Homo sapiens: one gene and its partners. The protein of the gene in region 3 purifies or fractionates together with the protein of the main gene of each other region. This does not show direct contact. Each region holds a gene or a part of one and is shown on either strand. Other genes may lie near its edges. The genes, in order: PPP2R2D, RGPD8, IER2 and KDM5C.

Evidence for each region.
Region 1: the proteins of IER2 (region 3) and PPP2R2D purify together in Homo sapiens (affinity purification with mass spectrometry; 4 studies listed by BioGRID and IntAct, with this or other methods). This does not show direct contact.
Region 2: the proteins of IER2 (region 3) and RGPD8 purify together in Homo sapiens (affinity purification with mass spectrometry; 3 studies listed by BioGRID and IntAct, with this or other methods). This does not show direct contact.
Region 4: the proteins of IER2 (region 3) and KDM5C purify together in Homo sapiens (affinity purification with mass spectrometry; 3 studies listed by BioGRID and IntAct, with this or other methods). This does not show direct contact.

Annotation. Positions count from the first base shown.
Region 1 is NC_000010.11:131,896,861-131,904,008, reverse strand, and holds the start of PPP2R2D (serine/threonine-protein phosphatase 2A 55 kDa regulatory subunit B delta isoform), read right to left. Parts: upstream 3,002-7,148; 5' UTR 2,861-3,001; coding exon 2,854-2,860; intron 2,772-2,853; coding exon 2,679-2,771; intron 1-2,678. UniProt on the Homo sapiens protein: Substrate-recognition subunit of protein phosphatase 2A (PP2A) that plays a key role in cell cycle by controlling mitosis entry and exit. Involved in chromosome clustering during late mitosis by mediating dephosphorylation of MKI67.
Region 2 is NC_000002.12:112,367,852-112,374,651, forward strand, and holds the end of RGPD8 (RANBP2-like and GRIP domain-containing protein 8), read right to left. Parts: intron 2,362-6,800; coding exon 2,327-2,361; 3' UTR 518-2,326; downstream 1-517.
Region 3 is NC_000019.10:13,145,873-13,153,410, reverse strand, and holds the start of IER2 (immediate early response gene 2 protein), read right to left. Parts: upstream 3,001-7,538; 5' UTR 2,859-3,000; intron 468-2,858; 5' UTR 225-467; coding exon 1-224. Other genes in the region: STX10 (syntaxin-10), read left to right, coding at 3,238-3,272, 3,514-3,683, 3,818-3,912, 4,320-4,382. UniProt on the Homo sapiens protein: DNA-binding protein that seems to act as a transcription factor. Involved in the regulation of neuronal differentiation, acts upon JNK-signaling pathway activation and plays a role in neurite outgrowth in hippocampal cells.
Region 4 is NC_000023.11:53,222,198-53,229,317, forward strand, and holds the start of KDM5C (lysine-specific demethylase 5C), read right to left. Parts: upstream 3,011-7,120; 5' UTR 2,693-3,010; coding exon 2,543-2,692; intron 1-2,542. UniProt on the Homo sapiens protein: Histone demethylase that specifically demethylates 'Lys-4' of histone H3, thereby playing a central role in histone code. Does not demethylate histone H3 'Lys-9', H3 'Lys-27', H3 'Lys-36', H3 'Lys-79' or H4 'Lys-20'.

The DNA of each region.
Region 1 (7,148 bases), on a different chromosome or scaffold from region 3:
TAGTCTCAAACTCCTGACCTCAAGTGATCCACCCGCCTCAGCCTCCCAGAGTGCTGGGGTTACAGGTGTGAGTCACCGTACCCAGCCACCCATCTCTTATCTCTCACCAACATCTCTCCCTCAAGGTTGCGTTTGGGCATGACCAGCTTCTTGATCCTTGCTGCTCAGCAATCCCTGGTGACTAACGACTACACTTCCCTTCATCATCACTGACTCTCTGGTGTTAATACAAAGCAACGGTATCACAACTATGGGACAAATCGATGGTGACTTATAAATGTGTTAATCTGGATGGGTTACTATGGCCAAAGCATACATGGATTAAAATAGACAGCTCTGAATACACAGAATAACCAAAACACATGCAGATAATTACCACAAAGCAATGTTACAAAAGAAACCACGACAACTCGAAATACCAAACTTTTGGATTTACTCAAAATTTAACTTAAAATAGGGATTTAAAACTGCAAAAAGTTCCCATCAGTTTAATTCAGAGAACAAAGTATTTGTCAAGATTTTTTTTTTTTTTTTTTTTTTTTGAGATGGAGCCTTGTTCTATTGTCCAGGCTGGAGGGCAATGGCACGATCTCCACTCACTGCAACCTCCACCACCCGGGTTCAAGTGATTCTCCTGCCTCAGCCTCCCAGGTAGCTGGGATTACATGCATGTGCCACCACGCCCGGCTAACTTCTGTATTTTTAGCAGAGACGGGGTTTCACTGTGTTGGCCAGGCTGGTCTCAAACTCCTGACCTCAAGTGATCTGTCCACCTTGGCCTCCCAAAGTGCTGGAATTATAGGCATGAGCCACAACACCCGGCCCAAGATTTTTTTTAAAGAAAGAATACTATTTTCATATGTGTACAGTCACATTTAAAATATACTACCTTAGTTATACTTAAATTTTAATTCATTCAGCTTATCAATAATTTTTTTTTTTTTAAGTAAAGAAACCAGGCAGGTGCGGTGGCTCACGCCTATAATCTCAGCACCTTGGGAGACTGACGTGGGCAGACCACTTGAGCCCAGGAGTTCAAGACCAGCCTGGGCAACATGGCGAAATCCCCTACAACAATACAAAAATTAGCCTGGTGTGGTGGTGCACGCGTGTGTGTGGTCCTAGCTACTTCAGAGACTGAGGTGGGCGAATCGCTTGAGCCTAGGAGGCAGAGGTTGCAGTGAGCCCAGATCGCACCACTGCACTCCATCCAGCCTGGGCTACAAAGTGAGACCCTGTCTCCAAAAAACAAAATAAAGAGTTAACAGAAATTAAGGCAAGCATTAAGCCCTCTCACTTTCCTACTCCCAAACAAGTTTTGCTTTACTTGCGACAGAAATCACACTTGAGTAAGGCTGAACTGTCACTTGCTTAGCATATGCAAAATCAAACAAAAAAAGTAATGCATTTTAAAGAAATAAAATCAATAAACTTTTTAGATCACATAAAATGCACCTAGTTTTAATCTCAAACCATATATATTACGCATTTCTTAGAGCCCAGTTTCACCTGCTTAATAACCTAGGCCCTGTTTGTCCCAGGGGGCGCAGAATCTCCAGATGTCCTCAGGGGTCATGTGCCAAACCAGACACTGCCAGGGAGAGGTACAGGGTAGGGAAGAGGGAGTAAAAGTTCACGGGGTTGGGGGGGCCGAGATGGAGGGAAGTGAACAGGACGTCTGACAAGGGGCTTTTAGTAACTTGAGGCAGGGAAGGTGTATTTGGTGCAAACACCAATCATTTTTAAGAAAAGGTTAAAGGTTTACAATGTTCAGTAAGATGTATGAACAACAACAAAAAAGTCACTATGACTCTGAATCTGAAATATTAATCAAACTTCTAAGACTCGACCAAGTTCTCCATTCAACGGTGAAAAAGGAAAGCTACATAGCTTTTTAACTTTAAGGTGACAGGTAAGCTTCATGGGAAGCTGGGGTGGGAGGCACTTCCCAGTTCCCTCCCACCACCCTAAAACTTTGTGCCTGGGCCAATTTGAGAGTATGATTTAAGGAAAAGACCAGTGAACTTCAAGTAATACCATGAAGTTCAAGACTAAAATCTGGAATAGAGACCTTAAAATATATCAGTAGAGAAAGTAGCAGTACCTCACAGTAAAATTCAAGGATTTTAGAACCGCAGAAAGCAGACCTTAAGAATCAGGGAGCCGAGGCAACCAGCTCGCTCAAGAGCGCACCGCCGATGAAACGCAGAGCCTGGTGGGGGCCGAGGCCCCGACCCAGCCCTAGGCGCGTTCCCAGCCTCTGGGCCATTGTGCCGCGCTGCCCGAGCGCACGATATGGACTCCGTTCCCGTCCCCGGCTCCGCCGCGGTCTCCTCAGTTCCGCCCCAGGCAGGAGGCAGCCCCGGGCTTCGGTTCCGCCCCGGGCAGGAGGCAGCCCCAGGCGCTGGGTTCGGAGGACCCGGCCGCCCGTGACCTTGGTGACTTACATAAGTCCCGCCGCGGGCCCGACGCCTCCGCCCGTGCCCCGCGGGCCGGGACAGCGGACAGAGGACGGCCGCCCCCCGATCACGGCCCCCAGCTCGGCCCCTGGCCCCTGCCCCGCCCGGCCCCCATCCTCCTGCCTGCCTTCCACGGACGCTTGGGGCCCGGAGGCCGCGCGCGGCCGGGCTGGGAGCTGTCCGCGAGGGTCCCGGGGCGGGGCGCGGCGCGGGGCTCACCTTCGGCCACGTCCTCGTCGATGGCCCCCTTGACCTGCGAGAAGCACCACTGGAAGTCGTTGCCGCCCGCGGGGCAGCCGCCGCCTCCGGCTCCTGCAAACACAACGGGGCGGTCAGGCCGGCCGCGGCCCCCGCCCGCCCCCGTGGTCCCCGCCGGCCCGCGCAGACCCCTCACCTGCCATGGCAGCCGGCGGCGGGACGGGCGGGGACCGCGGCAGACCAGGGAGACGGCCTCCGCGCCGCTGCAGCCGAGCGCTCAGCCCCGGGGCCGCCACCACCGCCGGCGCCGCCGCCGCCGCCGCCGCCGCCGGGGAGGGATTTTTTTCCCTTTTCAAAATGGCGCCCAATGCCCGTCGCCCCGCTCGATGACGTCATCGCCCTCCGCCTCCTCGGACGGGCAGCGGACGGGGCGGGCCGCGGGGGCTGCCGGGGGCGCCCAATGCGCCTGCGCCCGGCGCCGCTCGGCTGTAGGGGGGAAGGGACGCCTGGGCGACTGCGGAGGGAAGCCGGGGTCGCCGGGCGCAGGCCAGCTCCTCGGCCCTCGGCCCTAGGCCTCCCGCAGTGGTCCGGTGTGCACCCGGCGCTCCCCAGAAGACTAGCGCCGCCGGCCGCCCCTACTCTCCGGGGACTCCCGGAGAGCCTAAGCTGCGGCCGGACACGCCTTCAGGGCGCCGCTTGGCCGGACACGCCCCCATCCCGCATCGGCCAATGGAAACGTGGGTTCTCCGTGGAACCGCCAATGGAGGACGCGCTTGGCGGCGGTGGGCGGGCATGTGGGCCGGCCTCACCTGAGCGCGCCGTACCTGAGCGCTGCCTCCCGCCCACTGCCCCCGACGCGGAGTCTCGCTCTGTTCCCCGGGCTGGAGTGCGGGGGCGCGATCTCGACTCCCTAAAAGCCTCGACCTCCTGGGCTCAATCCATCCTACTGCTTCAGCCTCGGAAGTAGCTGCGAGCACAGGCACGCGCCGCCAGGCTCGCTGATTTTTAAATTTTTTGTAGAGACGGGGGTCTATGTTGCTCAGGCTGGTCTCGAACTCCTGGGCTCGAGCCATCTGCCGGCCTCGGTCTCCCAATCCTGTCCACCTCCCTTTCGGAGCGCACCGTTGCTCACCAGATGGCTACCTTAGGGGTTCTTGGAGCTCCCAGTGCAGTCTTAGGGAAACAGGGCCGATCGTTTCATTTGCGGGTGGTTTTCTCTGGCATACTGAGCGATCATGGGTGCTCCTCGACTTACAGTGGGGCTACCCTCCCCGCAAATAAGCCCTTCCTAAGTCAAAAATGCATCTAATACCCAATCTACCCGTCGTAAAGTTGAAAAATCTGAAGTCGAGCTATCATCAGGGGGACTGTCCCTATGGGATTGATGTCCGGAATCAGAACTTCTTTCAGGGTAGCTGCGGTGGGCACTGATGGTATTGCACCACTAAAAGACAGTCGCTGCAAATCAGGAACATTCGTCCACTCCATTAATATTATTTATTGACAGCTCCTGCCACGTGCGGCACACTCCACAGCCCTGGGGGTGAGAGGTTAACAGAGCAGAGAAATCTCAGCCCTGGTAGAGCTTACCTTTCAGTGGGGGAGACAGACAATAAGGAAATAAATACATAATAAGTCGGAGCTGGAGAGAAAAATCAGGGAAGAAGGAAATGTGTATGGGGAGAGTTGGAGTCTTGCACGGGGTGACTGGAGAAGACTCAAGGATAAAGAGCAAACCATGCAGACGTCTAGGAAAGCTTGGCCAGGAAGGGGAGACCACCAAGTGCCAGGACAGGAAGGAGGGCCATGCCTGGCATGGGCAGGAGGCAGCCAGAAGCTGCGTGGGTGCAGAGTGAGTGGAGGGGAGGCCAGGGGTTGGAGTCAAGGCAGGGAGGTAAGTGGAGGAGGATGGACAGTGGGCAGGCCATTTAGGGGACTTGGACTCTGAATGAGATGGGCTCATGAACAGAAGACGATCGTGATGGACTTGGGCTTTTGGATGCTCTGCTGAGAATAGCTTGTGGGGACCCAAAGAGGGGAAGCAGGGAGACCAATCAGGTGGCCAGCTGGGCTGACCAGGCATGGGGATGAGGATAGAGTGGTGAACATGGGGTGGGGTGGTGAGAACCAGTCAGATTTCAGAGAAAAGTGCTTCGACAGCAGAGCCCCTGGGATTTGCTGATGGAAAAGATGCGGTGTGAGAGAAAGCAGGGACTTAGGAATGCCTGCTCTCGGGTGGTCTGAGCACCTGGAAGGATGGAGTTTCTGCAGCAGAAGGCACAGCTGGGTGGGGGCGGTGCAGCCCGACCAGAGGTTCGCTGTCAACACATAGTGCTGTTGCACAGACAGGCTGGGAGCACACAGGGAAGTCAGAGCCAGAGCATCAAGGTGAGAGCATTTAGAGGTCATTTCAAGTCAGGAAACTGGGTGAGGTCACCTCAGGAGGGAGGACAGATGGGGGACAGGACCAAGGACAGAGCCCTGAAGGGGTGAGGACGTGGAGGATGAGTGAGCAGCCTGCGAGGTGGGCTCCTGGAGAACCCATCTCCAGGATCCACTGAAGACAGGAGGGAGTGGCTGCTCTGTGATGCTATGTGATGAGTATACAGGAGTGACCATTTGGTTGTAGGGACTGGGAGGCCATTACTGACTTGGACGGAGCGGTGGCTATGGAATGGACTCAGATCACAAGTTTGCAGAGGGCTCTGGGGACAGTGGCAGGAGAGGAACTAGAGGCAGTGAATACCTACTTCTCTGTTGAGGAGAAGAAGAGCAGAAAAATGGGGCTGTAATCTTGTTTTTAAAATGTAGATTTAGCCTATCTGCCCAGGAAGACACTTGAAAACCTGAATTAATGACCAGATCTCTTTTATTTGTTAACTTAAAAACCTGACAATTTATAAATTTAGAAAAAGAGGAACTTTATTTCTTATAAATGGTTACAGCCAGCAAGGTGGCCATCCCCCAGGCCAAGATGGGAGATGGCTCTTCGTAGGAGGAGGAGTTGGGGCAGGAGCTCTATGCTGAACGGGTTGGCTAAACATACATAGACAACAGGCTTTGGGAGGAGCTATGAATACTCAGGAAGGGGCTCCTGACACGTGTATTATGTAACATAGGACCCAATCTCACTCTGTCGGGGAGACTAAACATTTGAATATATTACGACTGTAATCCCAGCACTTTGGGAGGCCAAGTCTGGCAGGTTACCTGAGGTCAGGAGTTCGAGATCAGCCTGGCTAACATGGCGAAACCCCCTGTCTACTAAAAATACAAAAATTAGCTGGGCGTGGTGGCGCCCGTATGTCTGTAGTCCTAGCTACTTGGGAGGCTGAGACAGGAGAATCCCTCCAACCTGGGAAGCAGAGGTTGCAGTGAGCCGAGATCGTGCCGTTACACTCCAGCCTGGGCGACAGAGCGAGACTCCGTCTCTAAATAAATAAATAAATAAATAAATAAGTAAATTAGGACTAGGCCCTGTACCTCAAGAGGTCTTTTCAGGACAGGAAGGCATGCAGATGTGCAACCTCTGTAAACCGGCCAGAACCAGTCCAAGGTCGGTGGTTTCTTATCAGGAGACAGTTACAGTCTTCTGTCCAATGAAAGCTGTAGTTACGGCTGCTGGAGCAGGGCTGGGGGTCACTTAGTGGCTGGTGGAGCTGCAGTTGCTTAATGTTGCTCCTATCAAGGCCAGTGCTTATTTAGCTGCTGGAGGGAAGGAAAACCCAACAGCAGTGGGAACGACGTTTTCTCTGTAAGTGTGCGGTGCGTGGCTTCACCCTCCCCCCGCACGGCCTTAGGCCCTGTTTATGATTTGGCATCTTACTGCCACAGAGTCCGTTCTGTCAGTCTTATGGTCTCTAGTTTAACGTTAACGCTGGTCTGTTGTGTCCAAACCACAAAAGGGCGGGGGTATCAGGAGGCCTGTCTGACCTCCCATCCCCCATTATAGCCTCAGTGTTGAGGTTTTCCTGGGGCCCCCCCTGGCCACAGGGGTGTTCGTTCAGCCAGTGGGGGATGTAGGATTTTATTCTTAGTTCCTATGTAACTGCTTTAATGTGTGTTAAATATGTCTTTTGAAGTGATGACAAGATAATTAGTTTTTGTTTAGAATGTATTTTCTGGTTCATTAGCTCCCATTAAATTAAACTAAAAACAAGATATAGCCACAAAAGTAACATATTCCTGAGACTGGGGGGCTGCCTTCCCTGCGTCCCACTGTGCATCAGCTGACCAGCAAGAGATTTTTAACTATTTTTTAAAAAGAGATTTTTAACTATTCTTCTTATGATGCTAAAAACTTAAAATATTTGGCTAAACCACAATGACTTTTGCGCCAACCTAATAGCTCAATGAATTTCTCTGTTTGGATTCTAATTGGTGTTTACAAGTTTCTGAGTATTGACAGCAATTTTATTTTTTAAAATTGTTTTTCAGATCTCACAGCTGAATTGAAAATGCCTGGTGTGTATTAGAATCTAGCCTATTGTA
Region 2 (6,800 bases), on a different chromosome or scaffold from region 3:
GGCTAACACGGTGAAACCCTGTCTCTAGTAAAAATACAAAAAATTAGCCGGGCATGGTGGCCGGCGCCTGTAGTCCCAGCTACTTAGGAGGCTGAGGCAGGAGAATGGCGTGAACCTGGGAGGCAGAGCTTGCAGTGAGCCGAGATCGCGCCATTGCACTCACGCCTGGGCGACAGAGCAAGACTCTGTCTCAAAAAAAAAAAAAAAAATTAATGACCTCTGCCCCTAACTGAACAAAGCCCTTCATCTAAGGCCACCCTTTGGTTGGCAGCCTTAGCCAGACATCTGCTTCTGGTCAAATCAATGTCTTGTCCACAGGGAGGCCCAGCGCTGTTTCTGGTTTTAGCTGGATGCAGGGTGTCAGACATGGCAGGTACTACGGTCTACCTGGCGGGTATCAAAGAGTTGGTCGACGTTCTCACAACAACCTAATAGGGACCAACCATGGAAGGCCAGTAGTAAAGGAGTTTGAAGTTCCCTTTCAGAAACCAATTAACAACCCCAAAGAGACAGTGGGTAACATAAAAGAGCAGCCATAAAAATATACAGTTTTAATAGAAATATTAAAATAATCATTACACTTCCTCTCATTGCAGAAACCATGAAAGAATATGCCTTTTGTAATCAAAGTAATTTTTTATCATGCAAAAAAGTATTTTGTTATGACATTCGTAAGTGGAGACTGTATTTCAAAACAAGTTTATACAGACTTCAAAAGGTCTAAAGTCAAAGTGAAATATATTTAAATATGATTAGTTACATCTAATGCAGCTGGCATACTCATATTCACAGTTTATAAAGTAAAAAAACTAAACTCTTCATGTCGGCTCTGAAATAGATGCATTTTCATTCATACATTCGCTAGTTAGGTCTGTTCTTCTAAGGAGGAAAGACGAGATATATGAGATATTTTTTAAAGAACAAACTCAACATATCAGCAGCAAATTTCAGTTAAACTAAATTGGAAACCAATGTTCTGTGTAACCAAAGTGCAAAGTCAGTTCCCCAGCTCAGAAAGAAAATTAAGAGTATAAACTGAAGGCTTAAGAGAACTTCAGAGAGCACACTGTGTGATTAATACATAAATATTAAAAATTATCCAATTTTTGATTTAAGAACAACACAGTTTGGATCTAGTCATTAAAACATATGCACAGGTGTCAAAGGCAAGTAACACTACCACCTAAGGTTATTCGGAGGAACTGTGAAGATGTAGCACGGACCTCTAAGGTGTCTAAAATCCCTTCTGATGGAAAGGTTATGGAACACTATCTGCCAAAAACACTGAAAGCACCACTTTTATATTTAGATCCAATGCTGAGTGATATAGTCACTGTTGGGATAGGTTTTTATTTGGGAAAATGGAGAGGATTCTCAAAACAGATTCATGGCTTGCATGCAGTGACACCCTATCAAGAGCCTGGAAAGACACCATGAAATCACCTCAACTCAAGTGGTGGGCCCACCTACTCATAGTCAGTGTTACACTAGCCAGCTCTAGGGCTCTGACAACATAATGAGTTTTGAGGTAGTATACTTTAAAGAAAAAAAGAAGAGTTTATTTTAAAGCAAATAACTAAACTGTATTTTAACTTAGCACAATTAACTGCAGCATATTTACTTCATAGCCCCTTAACATGTCACTTTTACCAACAAAGCTTTTTCCTTCATATTCTAATCACAAAAATTTCTCAACAATTTATAACAATCTGTAAATCTGACCTTGCAATAAATAGTCATAAAACGTTATTTTTATTACTATTATTATTTTTAGAGACAAGGTCTCGCTCTGTTCCCCGAGCTGGAGTGCAGTGGTACAATCACAGCTCACTAGCCTCAAGCGATTCTCCAGCCTCAGCCTCCCAAAGTAGTGGGATTTCAGGCATGAATCACCACACCTGGCCTTGAAACATTATTTTTAAAGCCTAAATTCCAGTTGGTATGGTACCAAAATTTAGTTTAACTTCAAAATTCACAGTACTGCCGAGAAATGGGCGGGTCCTGAGGTTCCAGAGAAGTGGGGAGTGAATTCATTCCTGGTGGTTTTATTCTGGCAGCATGCATGGGAGATCACATGAGTTAGAGGGCTGTGGCCTGGTATCAACACTTCAAGCTGTTGTACTTTTACTTCAAGTTGAAACTTTTAAAATACATCTGTCATACAGATGTACAAATATATGTAAATGCAAACACATATACACACTTTTTGACAAAAGAATAATGGTAACACACACGAACCATTTTTGTAAACAGATTCTATTTGGTTAATAGAAGTATTCCTTCCATCAACCTATCGAAGTCCAAACCAACTACGAAGATAGGATGCTCATCCAGAAGAACGGGAAGGATTTTCTTCCTCATCTTTAGAAAGTAAAACAAAGAAAAAAAAAAGAAAAAAGAGAGTATTAAAATTTCTCAATGTAAAATCTATATTTTAGAACCACTCTACAATATAAGCAAATAATGTCTTTTTTACTGATCACATGCCTTTTTTGGTGGGGGGGGGGGTTCTTTTTTTTTTTTTTTTTTTTTTTTTTTTGAGATAGGGTCTTGCTCTGTCACCCAGGCTCGAGTGCAGTGGCGTGATGAGACTTCAATGCAGCCTTGATCTCCCAGGCTCAAGTGATTCTCCCACCTCAGCCTCCCAAGCAACTGGGACCACAAGGTGTGTACCACCATGCCTGGGTAATTTTTTGTTTTTTTGTAGAGATGCAGGTCTCACTGTTTTCCAGGCTGGTCTCAAATTCCTGGGCTCAAGTGATCCTCCCACTTCAGCCTCACAGTGTTGGGATTGCAGTCACGAGCCACTGTACCCAACCATATGTCATTCTTTAGACACACTGCTTACTAAATTTCTCTTTTTAAAGGATATACTGAATTTCCGGTTGAGCCAACTTAACAGCTAATTTTCTATTTTAGCTTTAAAACATTGATAAGCAACATGAAGCAATCTAGAACTTAACCTTTAAATGGCTTTATTAAAGCAATCCAGCTATGAAAATTATGCAGAAATGATTATCTACAAACAATCTTACCAGCACATAAGAAATTCTTCCTCTATTCTGAAATACCATCTTCTCACAATATACTTTGATGTTATGAATCAATGTCTGTTCTTGAACATTATTTATTGTCTTTCTCTATTAAACAATTCCAAAATAAAATTTCCAGCACAACTAAATATTGTTGACGATAAGAGGATTTTAAAAAAAATTCTTTTAAAACAGAAGCTTATATACAACTTAGAATCTAAAACCAATAGATTTATGGGAAACCTTAAAACTGAACCACAACAAACAAAAACCAAAGTTTTAATCATTTAAAAATCATGTTTATTGAGGTACAACTTACTTATAGTAAAACCTGCCCTTTTCAGCATATAGCACTGAGTCTTGACAAATGCACAGTTACGTACCACCACCGACCAAGGCCTGGCACATTTTCATCTCCTCAAAGTTCTCCCTGGCTGCTTCTCCCACTCCTTGGCAACCGCTAACCTGTTTTCTGTCCTTATAGTTCTGCTTTTTTCAGTGTCATATAAGTAGAATCACACTGTACATAGTATTTTGAGTCTGACCTCTGTCAACTGGCATAATGCATTTGAGAATTACCCATGTTGCTGAACTGGCAGTGCATTCTTTTTTATTGCTGAGCAGTATTCAATTGCACGGCTGTACCAGTTTGTTTATTCATTTGCCAGTTGAAGGATAACTGAGATCTTCCTCGTTTTTAGCAATTTTAAAGAAAGTTTCTACGAATAATTGTGTACAGGTTTTTAATTAAATGTTTTGGAGATATAATTCATATACCACATAATTCACCTTTTTAAAGTGCATAATTCACTGGTTTTTAATATATTCACAAGGTTTGTGCATAGGTTTTTGTGTGAATACTGGTTTTCATTCCTCTTGGATAAAGATTTAATTTGGTATTACCCTTCCAGACACCTTTCTGTGTTTTCATACGTATATATGTATGACAGTTTGACCTTAGGCAGAGTAGCATTTTCAAAATTTTACATGGGGAAACTTTCTAGAGTTACAAGTCATTTTATTTTTCTGTTCTGTCTGGTTTTATCTGCGTGTTATTTACAATCTGCTGCGTAACAAATTACTACAAACTTAGTACCTTAACACATATTTATTTCACAGTTTCTGTGGGTCAGGAGATCAGAAATGGTTCTATTTCAAGGTCTCTCACAGGGCTGCAATCAAGATGTTGGCATGGCTGGGGTCTCATCTGAAGGCTGGACTGGAGAAGAATCTACTTCCAAACTTATGTGGTAGTTGGAAGAATTTAGTTCCTCAAGGCTGCTAAACTGATGGCCTGTGTTCCTTGCCTCTGGGATGGTAGCTTGCTTCAACAAAGTGTGCAAGCAGAGAAGACAGAGAGAGGCCGCTAGCAAGATAGAAGCCACAATCTCTTGTAATCTATCATTCTTGCTGTATTCTACTGGTTAAACATAACTCATTAGGTTAGCCTACTGGCTCTCAAGGGGAAGAGATTATACAAAGGCATGCATTTCTGGAGGAGGGAATGAGGGCAAACAATTCTGAAAAGTCTGTCTTCCACAACCTGAAGAACTTCTAGAAAGTAGGAGGAAGCGATATTGCTTAGGGATGGACAACTTGGCACTGGTTATGTGTTCCAAGTGAGGTAACCTTGTTCCCAAGAATAAAGAGAACCAGACGACTGTAAACATTTCCCTAAACTGAAATGCAGACTGTTGTATGTTCACCTGAAATGAATGGTGTAAGCTGAATATAAGATTTTTGACAAAATAAAAATTTTGCTGTGTTCTCAGATCTGGCAGGCTCCTGCCCTTGTGCAAACAATGTTCCTGGCAGCTATTCATCTCCTTAGGTAAATAAGAATTGGAGAAAAGCTGTGCTTAGATAGGGTGCATTTGCTCTTGCCTTGGAAGGCTGTTTTCTGATAAGGTTCTATATCCTCTGCAAATCAAATCAGGCACTTACAGTGTGAGTATGCATTCTCTTCCTGCCAGTCTGGAGATGATCAAAAAGCCTATAACAGGCTTGGCCTATTTTCCTATTGGGTTGCTGGGCTTTTTTTCTTTATTTACTTGTAGAGAGTTTTAGACCTCTGTGTATGTATGGTGTACAAGTGACAATATTCAGATCTGTAAACTGTAACCCAGTCTGGGAGCAAAGAAGATATAGAAAAATGACTTTTACTTCCAGCTTTAGTAGTAAAATTGAGATTCAAATTTTGCATATAGAAGTACTATATGGCTAACTTATTTGGGGAGCAAAGCTGACTTACCATAAGTCTATCTCAAATAGAAATGAAACACTCAATTTGTGAAATATGCTGAGTTTTAATGCGTGTGGGGGCAGGGTGAATTAACATTTGTGATGCAAGGAGAAGAGCAATCTATACTTACCACTGTCTATTTGACATTGGGGACTACTGCTACACTCTAAGTCATTTTACCTTATAACGCAGAGTTGTAACACGCTACTCTGAGCAGCTCATGACATCTGCTTGAAATTTAAGTTGGGCCCCTAATATGTGTTTATTATAAAGATTTTGATGCTGCTTTTCAGAGTTGGGTAACCTACTTTACCCCCCTAAGCTAATGTTTCCCAAATACACCCAAACCCACAGAAAGGAAAACTATTCCTCATTAACTCACAGCCAACATCATAAACATTTTATATCTAGAGCTGATGATACAGTCAGGTATTTACCAACACTCATGTATATATGTAGAGTTTCAAGAAATAATTGCTTATCCTTACCAGATTCAACATATTCTAACGTTTCACATATTATTTTTATTTCTTAATATTTTTTTAAAGATGGGGTTTTACTCTGTTGCCCAGGCTGAAATGCAGTGGCGTGACCAGGATTTCGACCAGAAGTTTGACTGCAGCCTCGAACTCCTTCTAACAAACAATCCTGCTGCCTTAGCCTCCCGAGTAGCTAGGACTATGGGCACATGCCACCAGATCTGGCATATTTTAAAATTTTTGTAGACATAGGGTCTCGCCATGTTGCCCAGGCTGATTCTGAACTCCTGTTCTCAAGCAATCCTCCTGCCTGGTCTTCCCAAACTGTTGGGCTTACAGGTGTGAGTCATTGAGCCCAGCTTGTATTCTTTTGATTTAAAAAAAAAATATCCTGAATGTGATCCACCAAATTAATTTCACCATCCACTAATAGGTAGCAACCTGAATGAAAAATACTGTTATAAACTTTACACAAAACCAGAGATTATAAACATTTGCCTCCAAGGAGATGAGAGAGGCAAAAGGTACTTGTTTGCTCTGATGGGCCCTGTTTCCTTCAGTGCCAGGAAGAGTGGCTCTCAGACCTTTCTTCTGGCATCCCTCATGTATGCAGTGTTGGTTATTATTTTCAAGGCCTTGGTAACAAAATGCCCCTAGTGTGACCAGTCAGACTGACAGTCCATATCTGTAATATGGTGGTAAGTTTCCTTTGCATGTCTTTCTTTCTGGCATCTTAGACCTTTTACCTAGGAAATTTTCTTTTTGCTTGAAGTACATCATTAAGAATTTCCAGTGAAGGCAGATTCTTAAAGTTTTTGTTTTCCAGAAGAGATCTTGGAAAATATAAAAGGTTGGCAGTTATTTCTTTTAGTACATGAGATAGTATTACACCAATGCTGTTGAGAAGTCTATTGTGAGGCAATGTGTCTTCTTTCTCTGGCTGCTTTTGAGATTTCTCTCTGTCTTTTTTAGGGGCAGTTTTACTCTTATGTGACTAGAAGTAGATTTCTTCTTTTTTTTTTAATACTGCTTGAGATTTTACTGGGT
Region 3 (7,538 bases):
CGGGGCGGGTGCAGGCGAGGGTCAGAGGGGAGGGCGGCCGGCAACGACACCTCGGGCTCGAGGGCCTCCACCTTGGCCGAGAGGTAGAGCTCCCGGGCGCTGCGCATGACCAGCGACAGCTGCAGACTCCGGTGCAGCCGCAGGCCACCGCGCTGCATGCGGGAGTGATACATCTTCCACACCGACAGGGTCATGATGCGCTGTGCCTCTTTCTGCACTTCCATGGCGACTCGACGGCGACAGCGGCGGGGGCTCCCGGGAGGGACAGAACAGGCAGCAGGTGCACTCCGGACAACGGGCTCGCTCACGCCTCTCTACACAAACCAACCCACGCAGTGACACTGCTAGGACGCTCTGCCCAGGCGCCCGCCACCCAGGCCCTTTTATACCCCCAGTGACGTCACTGAGACACCCCGCCCAACCGAAGGACGCATCCGGGCTTTCCAACTCGTCGCGGCCAAACACTCCTTAAAGAGACAGAATGCGATTTACCCAGCAGGGAAAGGGGACGGGAACCCTGGCGAGGAGGAGCGTCCCCCGACTCCACGCTGAGCTTTCTGGGTGGGCTCCTTTCTCTGAGCCCCGCCGATGCATCAGCGCCTTGGCCCAAGGGAGGGGGGCCGGGGGTGGAGCTCACGGCCTACCCACATGCTCCCGTCTGGAGGCCCCAGTGGGTCGTGGGCAGCAAGTTTCCCTTCACACAGGGGAAGACCCTGGTTCCAGCCTGAACATCCCCTGTGGCCACTGTTCTTAGCATTTACCAGGTGTGTCTAATGAGTGTTTTCTGCACCAATAATCATGCTAACAGCGCTTACAACGTGCCAGGCTAGGTTAAGAGCTCTCCTTTTATCAATAATTCACCGATCCCCAGCCTCCACTCCTCGGAGGATACTGTTCTATCTGCTTCCTTCAAGTGGGGAAACCAAGGCAGAGTCACTAGGCCAATATTTACTAAACAAACAATATTTGCTACTGCTGTGAAAGGGGGCCACTGGGGCCTCCAGCTCTTCGGTCTCTAGCGTACGCCAGCCCTTGCTTGTAGGCGGTGACCCGCCCCGGGCTACGGGTTCCCGTGATTCGTACCAAGCCATTCCCCCGCAGTTTCCCGCGACAGGAGCTCCACGGGTGGGTTCAGAGCTCGCACGGCTGCGAACCCGGCGCGCACGACAGTCCCCGTGAACACGTGGCTGCCGCCCCCCAAACAAGGGGGCCGAGTTCCGTCTCCGCGTTCGGGGAGGCGGGGTTAGGTTGGGAGCTGGAAACCCAGCAATGCAGAGACAGAGCAGATAGAAAATCTCCGCCCTACCCTCCGCTACGCGCCGTCTCTCCAAGAAATACTAATTCCACTTCCTCCAAAAATAGGATGCAGAATTGTTCGAATGGCTCCATTCATTCCTGGTGCGGGCCCTTTAAGGGGTGGTGCGCCCCCCGCCCCCTTTCCGCCCGCACTGGCTCGCGGCGCCTTCCCGCCACCAGCGCCCGCTGACTTCCACAACTAAATTTGGACGGAGTGACGTAGGGCAGTCGCGCGGGCCGCTTCCGGTTGCCCATATTAGGACAGGGCCCGTGATCGCCTTAGCGGCCGGCGGCGGGGCTTCCGGGGGGGGGGCGCGGAGGGGCGGGGCTTTGCGCTCCGGCCACGCCCCTCCCCATCCCCGACCCGGGCAGCCGGAGCAGGCTGGAGCCCCAGGCTTCCTGACTCGCATTCCAGCCGGGTGGGGGAAGAGGAGAGTTTCACTTCCTTCCCTCCAGGGGCCAGGAAGGCGTGACGCCAGGAAAGCACCCCGCAGCGGGTAGGGGCGACCTGAGGGCTCCCAGGGACGCCATCTCCCAGAGACGCTGCAGAACGACCCTGCATACACAGGAGACGACCCGCTGAGGCCCCCTTCATCCCATCTCTCCTCTTCCCAATTATTTCCCCCATACAAGGCCCCCTCCCAGGTTATTCCTGACCCCTGCCCCACACTGATCTTCTCAGGCCTTGGGACACCCTCCCGTCCCGCCCTTCCCCCGCACGCTGGGAACTCAAAAGTTATTCCCCCCTAAAATACCCTTCCCAAACTCGTCCCCATTCAACGATGGTGCCAGACTGCGACGACCTGCCGAAGACGCAGGCCGTCCCCACCCCGCTAACCTTACCACGGAGACCCCACAATGATTTCCCCAGCCCAGGCGCTATCTCTGAGACCCCACGCAGCAACTCTGACGCGCAAGGGGGCGACCCTCCGAGGACTCCCTCAGATAACCCGCCCACCCTCCAGGGGAGACCAGGCCCCCTATCACTCAAAAAAAGTGCTTTCCCGAAGCTCCCCAACACACAGCGCCACTGTCACACATAGGGACGACCCTGAGTCCCTCCGCTGATATTCCTGGCCCCTACCCAGACGGAGACCCCACACACAGAGGGCCCCCCTGGAGACCATCCTCAAAGCCACCACCCGCTACCCCCAGGCTCGCACCCAGAAAGACTCCGCGCTTCTGAAGAAACCCACCTCCACGCACTTTCTCAAAGGTGACCTCCCCCCGCTGCTGGCATATCTGGGACCCCCTCACGACCACCTCGCCCCAAGGCGACCTCGAAGTGCCCCCAACTCCGCCACTTCTCAGGAAAGAGATTGGGAGAATGCGGCAGAACTCCCCGGAGGAGCAGGCCCGCTCCTCACCGCGCCCCCGCAGGGAGAAGGGAGGACCACCTCTCCCCCAGACCCTAGCCAAACCTGACACTCGGGACCCTGGGATGGGACGATCTCCCAGGTGCCAGCTCAGGGAGTCCATGAAAAGCTTCAACGAATCGAATGAGCCCCTTCCCCAGCCATAATACCCAGCCGCCAGAGATGAGGGAGGCTATCATTATTTACATTGCCCGTGCCTGGAAGGGAAACTGAAGTTGCGCAGGAACAATCCGAGGAACTGGGCCTTGAACCGAAATTCCGAACTCGGACCCGAATAGGCCCAGACAGAACTCCGACACCGCCCCCTACGGTGCGGCACGAGAGGGCTAAGGGGCGGGGGCATGTGCACCGGAAGCTGCCTCTGCCCACAACCAAGATGGCTGAGGAGAGGGCGGAAGTGTCCGCACGTCGGGCCTCCGAGGCTTCTCTTTCTCCCCTGGCGGTCCGGCTCTCGATGGTGGCGTGACGGGGGCGGGGGTGGCGGCGCGTTCTCCTCGGTTGGGAGGGAACCAGCCCGCGAACCCAGGCCGGGAGGGGGGTTCGGCCTGGGGGGGAAGGGACTGACATGTCTCTCGAAGACCCCTTTTTTGTAGTCCGAGGGTGAGTGACAACGACGGGGGAGGGCGGAGGGTGCTCTGTACCCAAGCCAGCCAGTGCCCGGGTGCCGGCCCCAGCGTGCCCGGCGGGCTGGGCAAGGCCGTCGGGGTGCAGAGTGGGAGGCGCACGCAGGGGTATATAGGGGTCTCCGGAGTCCCCCATGCGTTTGGGTTTGCAGTCGGGGGCAGAGGCAGGCGGGAGGACCGCCTGCCCCCAGCCGCGCCCGCCGTGCCCCTGCCCGCAGCGAGGTGCAGAAGGCGGTGAACACGGCCCGCGGGCTGTACCAGCGCTGGTGCGAGCTCCTGCAGGAAAGCGCGGCGGTCGGACGCGAGGAGCTGGACTGGACGACCAATGAGCTGCGGAATGGCCTGCGCAGCATCGAGTGGGACCTCGAGGACCTGGAAGAGACCATCGATATCCTGGGGCTTTGTGGCAGAGGGTGGCATGGGAGAGCCCATTGCGGTGGCAGCCCACCTTCGGGTAGGGCTGGACCCCTAGGGACGGGGATGATATCTGGCTCCGGCCTTGACCCTTGACTCTCAGCCCACGTATAGTGGAAGCCAACCCAGGCAAGTTCAAGCTCCCAGCCGGGGACCTGCAGGAGAGAAAGGTGTTCGTGGAGCGGATGCGAGAGGCAGTCCAGGTCAGGAAAGGTCCTGCAGGCGGGGAGTGGGGGAAGGTTTGAGTGTGTTTTTTTTTCTTTCTTTCTTTCTTTTTTTTTTTTTTTTTTGAGACAGAGCCTCGCTCTGTCGCCCAGGCTGGAGTACAGTGTTGCAATCTCGGCTCACTGCAACCTCCGCCTCCCAGGCTCAAGCGATTCTTGTGTCTCAGTCTCCTGAGTAGCTGGGACTACAGGTGCCTGCCACGATACCCGGCTAAGTTTTGTGTTTTTAGTAGAGACGGGGTTTCACCATGTTGATCAGGCTGGTCTCGAACTCCTGACCTCAGGTGATCCACCCGGCTTGGTCTCTCAAAGTGCTAGGATTACAGGCGTGAGCCACCGCGCCCAGCCTGAGTGTCTTTCCTCCCTAATGCTGTCCTTACCTCCAGGAAATGAAGGACCATATGGTCAGCCCAACAGCCGTAGCATTTTTGGAGAGGAATAACAGAGAGGTAAGCCTTCCTGACCCACCCTGCCCACCTGAGCCCCTGGGGGTAACCAAGCCAGATCCCTCTGTGCGTGTTCACCTGTCCCTTTTGCGACAGTGCCCGTCCTCTCTGTGGGCAGTTATCTTCTTGCTGTCTACCTGCCTGCACTTTCTCGGTGTGTGCACCTGAACCTCTCTATGTGTATATGTCCGTGGGTTCCTCTCTACTGTGTCCTCTGGGTCTATACTGGTTTCCTGTTGCAGGAGAGGGCTGGGGGCCTGTGTACCTATCTCCTTTCTGCTTCCATGCCATTTGTCCTGTGTGCACCTGTTTCCAGGACGCATGCCTGCCTTTTACTCTTTTTTTTTTCTTTGAGACAGAGTCTTGTTCTGTTGCCCAGGCTGGAGTGCAGTGGCTTGATCTCAGCTCACTGCAACCTCTGCCTCCTGGGTTCAAGCGATTCTCCTGCCTCAGCCTCCCAAGTAGCTGGGATTACAGGTGCTCGTCACCATGCCAGGGTAACTTCTGTATTTTTTTTTTTTTTTTTTTGAGATGGAGTTTCACTCTTGTTGCCCAGGCTGGAGTGCAATGGTGCAATCTCGGCTCACCGCAATCTCCGCCTCCTGGGTTCAAACAATTCTCCTGCCTCAGCCTCCCGAGTAGCTGGGATTATAGGCATACGCCACCATGCCTGGCTAATTTTGTATTTTTAGTAGAGACGGGGTTTCTCCATGTTGGTCAGGCTGATCTTGAACTCCCAACCTCAGGTGATCCACCTGCCTCAGCCTCCCAAAGTGCTGGAATTACAGGCATGAGCCACTGCGCCTGGCCTAATTTTTGTATTTTTAATAGGGTTTTGTCATGTTGGTCAGTCTGGTCTCAAACCCCTCACATCAACTGATCTGCCTGCCTCAGCCTTCCAAAGTGCTGGGATTACAGGCGTGAGCCATCGCACATAACTTCCTTTTTTTTTTTTTTTTTTTTTTTTTTGAGATGCAGTCTCACTCTGTTGCCAGGCTGGAGTGCAGTGGCGCAGTCTCGGCTCACTGCAACCTCCGCCTCCTGGGCTCAACGATTCTCCAGCCTCAGCCTCCTGAGTAGCTGTAATACAGGCACATGCCACCACACCCGGCTAATTTTTTTTTTTTTTTTTTTTTTTGAGACGGAGTGTTGCTCTGTCGCCCAGGCTGGAGTGCAGTGACGTGATCTCGGCTCACTGCAGCCTCCGCCTCCCGGGTTCAAGCAATTCTGTCTCAGCCTCCCGAGTAGCTGGGATTACAGGCACCCACCACCATGCGTGGCTAAATTTTGTATTTCTAGTAGAGACGGGGCTTCAACATCTTGGCCAGGCTGGTCTTGAACTCTTGACCTCGTGATCCACCTGCCTCGGCCTCCCAAAGTGCTGGGATTACAGGTGTGAGCCACCACGCCCGGCCAATTTTTGTATTTTTAGTAGAGACGGAGTTTCATCATGTTGGCCAGGATGGTCTTGATCTCCTGACCTTGTGATCCACTAGCTTCAGCCTCCCAAAATGCTGAGATTACAGGCGTGAGCCACCGCGCCCGGCCAGCTTCCTTTTTTTTTTTTGAGATGGAGTCTTGGCATGTTGCCCAGGCTGGGGTGCAGTGGTGCAATCTTGACTCACTGAAACCTCCACCTTCCGGGTTCAAGCAATTCTCCTGCCTCAGCCTCCTGGGTAGCTGGGACAACAGGAGTGTGCCACCATGCCCAGCTAATTTTTGTGTTTTTAGTAGAGACAGGGTTTCCCCATGTTGGCCAGGCTGGTCTCAAACTCCCTACCTCAGGTGATCCGCCCCCGCCTTTTCATCTGTGCATGCACCTAACCTATTTGGGTGCGTGCACTTGGCCTCTGAGTGTATCTGCATTTTCCCCCCTCATATCCTAATATCTGCTAGTTTCCTCTGTAATGTGCCTGCCGTGTGTGTGTGTGTGTGTGTGTGTGTGTGTGTGTTTCTGTGTTTCTCCCAACCACCTCTGTCAGTCCACTTTTTCTCTTGGTGTTCTCTGTTGATATTTTTCATATGTTGAGAACCACCAGCCTTTCTCTCTCCCTCATAAGCGTACGTGGGGTCGGGGAGGGTGGGGGACTGAGGCTCCTCCCAGTTTGTCATCCCATAGCAGTGCCCACGTGCCTTCCAGATGTGCTGCCTTGGGGGAATTCAAGTCCAAACTCTAAAATACATCTGTTGGAGCCGGGCACGGTGGCTCACACCTAAAATCTCAGCACTTTGGGAGGCCCAGGCAAGTGGATCACCTGAGGTCAGGCGTTCGAGACCAGCCTGGCCAACATGATGAAACCCTGTCTCTACAAAAAATACAAAAATTAGCCAGGCGTGGTGGTGATCACCTGTAATCTCAGATACTTGGGAAGCTGAGGCAGGAGAATTGCTTGAACCCGGGAGGTGGAGGTTGCAGTGAGGCGAGATCACACCACTGCACTCCAGCCTAGGTGACAGAGCAAGACTCTGTCTCAGACAAACAAACAAACATCTGTTGGGCCAGGCATGGTAGCTCACGCCTGTAATCCCAGCACTTTGGGAGGCTGAGGCAGGTGGATCACTTGAGGTCAGGAGTTCGAGACCAGCCTGGCCAACATGGGGAAACCCTATCACTAGTAAAAATACAAAAATTAGCTGGATGTGGTGGCAGGTGCCTGTAATCCCAGCTAAAATCCCCCCAAAAATAAACAAATAGTAAAATGTGACATTTACTAGCATTACTATGTGTTGGGCACTGCTGTAAGTGTCCCCCATCAATTAATTCTTTAAATCCTCATTTCAACCCAGGAAACACGGATTCTAGCTCTTCCCATTTTATTTTATTTTTTTTTTTTTTGAGGCAAGGTCACTCTGACACCCAGGCTGGAAATGCAGTGGTGCGATCTCAGCTCACTGCAACCACCGCCCCCCAGGTTCAAGCGATTCTGCTGCCTTAGCCTCACAAGTAGCTGGGATTACAGGCATGCACTGCCACACCCGGTAATTTTTTTTTTTTTTTTTTTTTTTGAGAGAAGGTCTTAACCTGTCACCCAGGCTGGAGTGCAGTGGTGTGATCTCGGCTCACTGCAACCTCAGCCTCCCAGGTTCAAGTGATTCTGACCTGCCTCAGCCTCCCTAGTAGCTGGGATTACAGGCACCCGCCACCAAGCCTGGCTAATT
Region 4 (7,120 bases), on a different chromosome or scaffold from region 3:
GGGAGAGACAGTGAAAGAGAAGAAAAACTGTTGACCTCTTCTGCACACACACTTTTAGAAAATGGGCTAGAGGACTCATATTTTGCATGCATACACAGACCACACTCCCCTGCCCCTACCAGCCAAAGCAGGTGGCAAACATCTGGGGCTCAGTAAGCAGGGACAAAAAAAAAAAAAAACAGGCAGGCCAAAATGGTATGGCTCAAATCCAGACAAGCTCCCCATGCCCTCTTGCCTCTCATCAGGATAGGGCACTCCCCTCAGCACAGGTAACCCAGCTAAAAAGGTGCTCAAACCCAAAACTCCGGGCACCCTTCTTTCCTGCTGAATCAAGTTCTAGACAATCAGTGCAACATCAAGCACCTGACAGGAAATGGCAGCCCTGGAATGCTACGGCAGGAGCCATGGATGCAACAGATACCTGGGAAGGCCCTGCAAACCGCCTGCCTTCATCTCCAGACTACTGTATGCCAAATGTATGTTGGTATTACTGGGATGTGGTGATAAAAAAAAGGCTGGCTACCTGATGAAGAAAGCAAGATCCTTCCAAACTCCACTGGGTCTACTCAGGGTACCCACACTCTCCTCCCACCCATCTTTCCCAAGCGTAGCAGTCACCTGCCCAGCAATTCAGGCCCCAAACCATCCTTCCTCCAGCAAACCTCCAATTCCCAGGTACCCACCCATATACAGGTTCCCACCCTGGGCCCAAGCATCACTTGAGCGAGTACTTCAAACTTCAACCAGAAGAAGGCCAGCTGCCTAAAGGTGGCCTAGGAGCTGCCATAGAGAAGGAAAAAACAAAACCAAACCAGAGAGCCAGGTATCCTGGATTAGAGAGAAGCACACTGTTGAGCAGTGAAAAGGACGGCCTCCTGCTGGCCATGCACACCTGGGACATGTCACTCTTCCCCTTCCTGATGCCCCAAAGCAGGGTAACAACACCTACACAAGGCCAGCCTGCCTAAGTCAGTCCAAGATAGAAAAAAGGAATTCAGGCCTCAACTACCCCCTACGTCAGCTATGCCTCTTTTTCCCACAGGCTTGCCCAACCACTTCAGGGAGTGCCTCCTTGAGGCTGCCCAGGACTCCTGCCTCTCCCTTCCACTAGCCTTCCTGACCCTCTACCCACTGCCACTCCCTCACCATGGACAAGGATACCTCAGAAATCTGTGGCCAGACTCCAAGAAGGAAGAAATTCGCTTACCCAACACCTCCTAGAGGATCTATCTGAAACCATCCTAGATCTGTGGCTGAGCACCAGAAAGCACCAAGTTGGATAAGGAGGCCTGTGGTGCCCTCCTCAGGTGGGAATGAAGCTTCCTATTCCATTTCAGCCAGGAGACACCCACTCAAAAACACCCTTTTCCAGCAAAGCTCAATTTCTGCCCTTGGAATCCCAACTGATCACTGAACATTATCATCACTTTTCCACCATATCAGCAAGGCAGCAGCTTGCCCTAGCCCTTGGGAGACTTCTAGCCTGAAGCCAGGCCTAGGAGGAAAGCTATGGCCTTTGTTGCTGACCCCTGGCAATCATGTTCCAAAAGGGACAGAATTCCATGGCTCCATTCTGTTCTGCGGGCCCAAGAGTGCCCTATCCTCTGGGATCTCCTACATCCTGGACCAGAGGAGAGTAGAAATCTTCTGAGAAGGACTCACACCCCACCACCAAGCTGACCGGTCCAAACATCTCCATAGGAAGTCAAGTCTGCGGGATGATGTGCAGAAAAGGCCTTGACATTGCCTTCAACGAGGAAAAGAAGAGGACAATTCCCTGAACCCACCTCAAGGGAGACAGAGCAATCCCTGTGAGACTGATTTCCTGACTGGTCCAGCAGGCCAGGATATTATCATAGATGAATTGGCCTGGCAAGGTATGAGTAAATATGAGTCAACCTACATAGGAATAAACCAATGACCACATCAAACACCCTCACAGTCACAATAATTACCACTTATCTAGTGCGTACTACATACAGACGCTACCTAGTTTAATTCAATCCTCTAAATAACCATTTCTGGGATCCATTTCACGGGCTCAGAGAGATTACTTCTACTTTCCCAAGGTCACACAGCTGCTCAGCTTCAAAGTGGAGTTTTGAACTCAAGTCTGTCTCCCTTCAGGACTGCGATCTTTCTATTAATACTATACTATGCTGCCTGCCTTAAAGGAAGTGATGACAACAGATTGGAGAAACGTCTTATTTTTACAGCCTCGACCTAGGTGGCCCGGGCTAAGAGATGTGCGGGGTGCCTCTCTGTGAACTCCCTCCGGCCCACTAGGAATCCCTGTCTTAAACCCGGAGTGATTCTGAAGGGCCGGGGTGGGGGTGGATCTCTGACTCCAGGTCACCTGTGGGCCTCACACCACGAGAGGACCCCTGGCCCAACACCCTTTTTCCGATCCGCGCCGCAACCACAACGGTCCCAGCCACCCCCTCTCCCCACCTCGAGCTGCCCTCCGCCCCAGACTTCGCCGCTGGCTATCCTACTGCTTCATTCCGTCTCGCCGCCGGCGAAAACCGGCCCCGGGGCTTACCGCGGGTGGGCGGATCTTGCAAATGCCCGATTTCTCTGCGATGGGCCTGATTTTCGCGATGTAGCCAAGAGGGTCTCGGAACTCGGCCCAGCTAGGCTCGAACACCGGGCACTCCGGTGGCGGTAGGAAATCGTCGGACCCCGGCTCCATGGTGGGCCCGAGGTCTGGGCCAGGGATCGGGAGGCTTGGACCGCCCTTAAGGACTCATGGCGCCGCCGCTGTTTGAAGCCGAGGCAATGCTCGGAGGCTAGGCCCTAAGCGGGGCAGCCGCCGCCCGCCGAGGGCCTAAGGGGGCGTGTGGCCGTCGTGCTCTGAGAGTCTCAGGCTGACTCTACTGCTACCGCCTCTTCGTCCCGCTCCGTTTCTTCCAAACTGTGTGGTTGCCTCCCCACTACCGCAGCCTTCGCCACCACAGTTACCTCCCAAACGCCGCGGCCTTCAGCGCCGCCGCCGCCATCTTGGTTTGTCAGCGTCTCCCCTCCCCACACCACAACAAACCGGATCCTTCCGCGGGGTGTCCTTCCGAGCCTCGTATACGTTGCGTCACACCAAGCCCTAGGAAACCTTCATATAGTGGAGACCGAGCTAAATAGGCTGGTATGGGTTTCTATTTGGAAGGGGTTACTCAAAAGTACCACCCCGGACTGAGAGAAAATAGTTCATTGCAACGGCGGAGGAACAAGATTGTAATTAGTTTGCCGGATCGTCTTTCCGGATGGACCGGCGGTGCACGTTTAAAGGCCAGTGATGCGCATGCGCGTTATGGAGACCGGAAGAGGAGCTGGTGTCCGTGGGTGGTGGAGTCAAACCGGCACTCCCCCGCAGACCTCAACCAGGTCGCTAGCCCCGCACCAGTGTTCTCTGTCCCTTCTCCCTGGTCTTAACGGTATGGGCCGCGGAAGGCGGCTCTGGGAGCCTGATTGCAAAGGACCCCTTATGCTGGCCCGCGGGATGGGGGGAGATGTACTAGGCTCCAGCTCTAGACACTGACACCTCTGGGGCTTTGAAATAAGGAAGGCAGGAAGCTGCTCACTCCCCGGGGATTATGGATTTTTAGGATTCTGAGTCCCAAGTAAAGGAAGGAAATCTTTATTTCATCCAAGGTTACAGGTAGAGAGATGGGGTTTCGATTCTTACCCCCCAAAAGTCACTGGGAGTCAGCATTTTAATGAACGCTTTCAACTGTTCTGTATTCACTTTTACCATGTACACATTTGTGGCATATACTCCTACAAAATAAGCCTGTGTGTATGTATACTTTAACTATTGGATGTTTAGCAACGGCGTATTTATCCAGTGTCAACTGTGTAAAACACCTGTTTGCCCATTTGTGAGCCTACAGTGCACTTACCAAACATCCGTGTACTTTTATTGTATTTATTGTGTATAGCCCCTGTGCATTTGGTACCAACTGTATGTACATTTAGTCCTATCGTGTGCATGTTCCTTGAGCAGTTTCTGAATAGGTTCATTGCAACTACAGTACTTTGAATGAGTATCATCAAACCAGTACTTTGTACATATACATCAGGCATCTACTGATTGGAGGATCATCTGTGTCATTCATCAGCTGTGGACCTACTGCATATAGTTTGAACACCTACTGTGCAAATATTTGAGTACTTGCGTACATGCTGATTAAGTAATTTTGTTTTCCCCCATCAGACTATGAATTCCTTAAGGGCAGGGACCATGTGGCCTTATACATCCTTAGCACTTGGCATGTTAAGCAGTAAATGAATGTTGAGTAAACAAAAGAAAAATGAATAAATGTCCTTAGTATATATTGACTGAAAAATATGAATACTTTTTGCAAACATTTCCTGTTTAACATATTAAACATCCACTGTAAGCTCGAGGCAGATAGGGAGTGTCATACCTTCGTGCAGTTAACTGTTCCTAATCAGATACTGTGCCAATTAGGTCCATCCTGCCTACTTCAGGACTGAGCTAAGGACATCCTGGCTGAGGGAACAGGGCACACAGGTAGGAAGGAGCTCATGCCCTGGGCTCAAAAGAGTCATGCCTTGCAGTCCCACCAGCTCTGCCATTTTCTAGTTTGTAACCTTGAACAAGTCCCAACTTCTGTAACTGAAATGGGGATAATACATACCTTGCAGAATTGTTGTGTACTTGGCACATAGCAGGCCCTCAGTATCTGGTAGCTGTTATTTTTATTTCTGAGAGTCAACAACCAATATGCCAAAACTCATTAAGAATCTCCTTTGTGTCAGACACTGTGCTAGTGCTTTTGTATTTTTTTTTTTATCACCTGAATCCTTATATTACCTTGAATGTTCAAGATCTTTATCCCCACTTGGCTCGTGTGGAGACTTGTCCCAAGTGACACAGATATTAAGTGACATCTTTCTAGTTTTCTAGGTGTCAGGGGAAACCTCAGCCCCTCTCCACCAGAAACACAGGTGGATGATCCAACTGAACAGCTGTCTGGACAGGAAGCAGGAAAACTAGGCAAAGTGATGCTAATCACAGTAATATCACTAGCCTCTCACATGGATAAGCATCTAATTGCCTACATGGCTAGTTCATACCAATTATTTCCCTTAATCTTTGCAACAGTCTTCAGAAAGATGTAGGTGAATTTACCCAGTCTGTAGATGAGGAACCAAGTTCCAGAAAGATTAAACAACTTGCCCAATGATACACAGGAAGTTGCTGACTCTGGTCAAATGCTCTTCCTGTCGTTTGCCCTCACCAGGAGTGGAGGAGGTGAGGGAAAAGGGAGCTGCTGGGGTGGGAGGTAGAGTGGTGGGGCAGGGCCCAGTCCTTGGCAATATGGGGCATGCAGGGCCTGGAGCTTGGACTGCCCATCGGGCAGCACCCCCAGGCCACCGTGGCTGTGACCGTGATGGTGGTAGTGGTGGTGGTGCGTGGAAGAAACAGATGAAAAGGAGGCAGAGGCCTGGCCAGAGAAGGGTGAGGAGAATCTAGAAGGTGGGAGAATACGGTAGATCTTAGGCCGAAGGAAGTTCAGCCTTTCCATCTAGAGGCTCAAGGAAGTACAAAGAGCATGAATCAGGAATCAGGAGGCCAGATTTTGGGTCTCAGCTCTGCACAGTCTTCCTACAGCCTTCTTTGAGGTCCTTTAGCCCAGACACACCCGTCCTAGAAGATTAAATAGAAATTATGTAGTCTTTGAAGCCAATGAGATAGAATTTATTCGTTTACAAATATTTATTAAATTTCTACTATGCACCAGCAAATTTTCTGGGCACTGGGAATATAATGGTGACCAAGACAGATGTAGTCTCTACTTTCCTGGAGCTGACATGCACCCACTGAGATCTGCCAAGTACCTCATCTTCCTGAGCCTTGATTTTCTCCTTTGTATAATGAAGCTAAATAATCCCTTCCTCACAGTGTTGTTAGGAGGATTAGAGATAATGATGACTGCCATTCATCAAGGGCCAGGTGCTATGAAGTAGGTATTGTTATCCCCATCCTACAGATGAGGAAACTGAAGCTCAGGGAAGTGTAAACTTACTCAAGTCACATGGCTAGTAAGTGGCAGGACCAGAACTCAAACCCAGGTCTGTCTGACTGCCGTACAATTCTGCCTGTAAGAGTCTCAGATGGTGCTCCCCATGTAGTAAGGCATTCAGGAAATGGGTTTGTTCCCCAAGCCATGGGTCTTGCTGGGGGACAACCGGAGTCTAGACGCTGGGGACTTAAGAATTGGGATGCATCAGGAAACTCACTCCAGGCTGGGGGCTGGCTTGGCCTCACCCATCCACCCGGGAGACAGGGTCTGACATGGAGTTGGTGCAGAGCAGTGACTGGAAGGCTCGTCTGGGCTCAAAACCACACGCACCCCATTCATGTTTTGTGGATCAACTGGGCTGACACTGACTTTGTGTCTCACTTTTTTTGGTTTGTAAAATATGATCTCTTCCAGTTCTGAAGTAGGTTTAAGCTGTTGGTTCTGATTCCTAAATAGCTCTAGAATCCATCCCCTCCTCCTTGCCATCTTCCACTCCTCCTGTGAGCCTTTTACTGTCTCTAGCCTGGACTCTTAAAAGAGCCTCCTCAAGGTATCTGTGTGAACTCATGGTTTATTAGACAGAGACAGAGAAATATCGATGTCTAGTATAGAAATATAGATGTATAGTATGTGCTTATACATATACATAACAATAAAATGATTTATCCAAAGTAATGTTAATTCAAAATGAATTATGATAGTAGTGGATTACAACTCACTGGTTAAAATAAAAATCCATGACTCCACATTGATATAAGTAAATAAAGTGAGAGAAAAGGGAAAGTAGAATTCTAAATTATATAGAAGGAATGATGGAGCTAGAAATCATCAATGGATGCTCAAACCTTTGCAAAATAAAAGAGCAAGCTCTTAAAATATTGCTGTAACACCTAGTGCCCAAATCTTGGTTTCTAAATGTCATTCTCTACTAAAAAGAACCGGGGCTCCTTGGAAGGGCTCAGAAAAAGATGGAGATGTGCCACAGGACACAGGGGCTTAGAGGGCTTCCTACTGGCCAAATCTGGGGCTGTGAACATCAAAATAAAGAATGATGTTAATGGGTTATATATAACCCA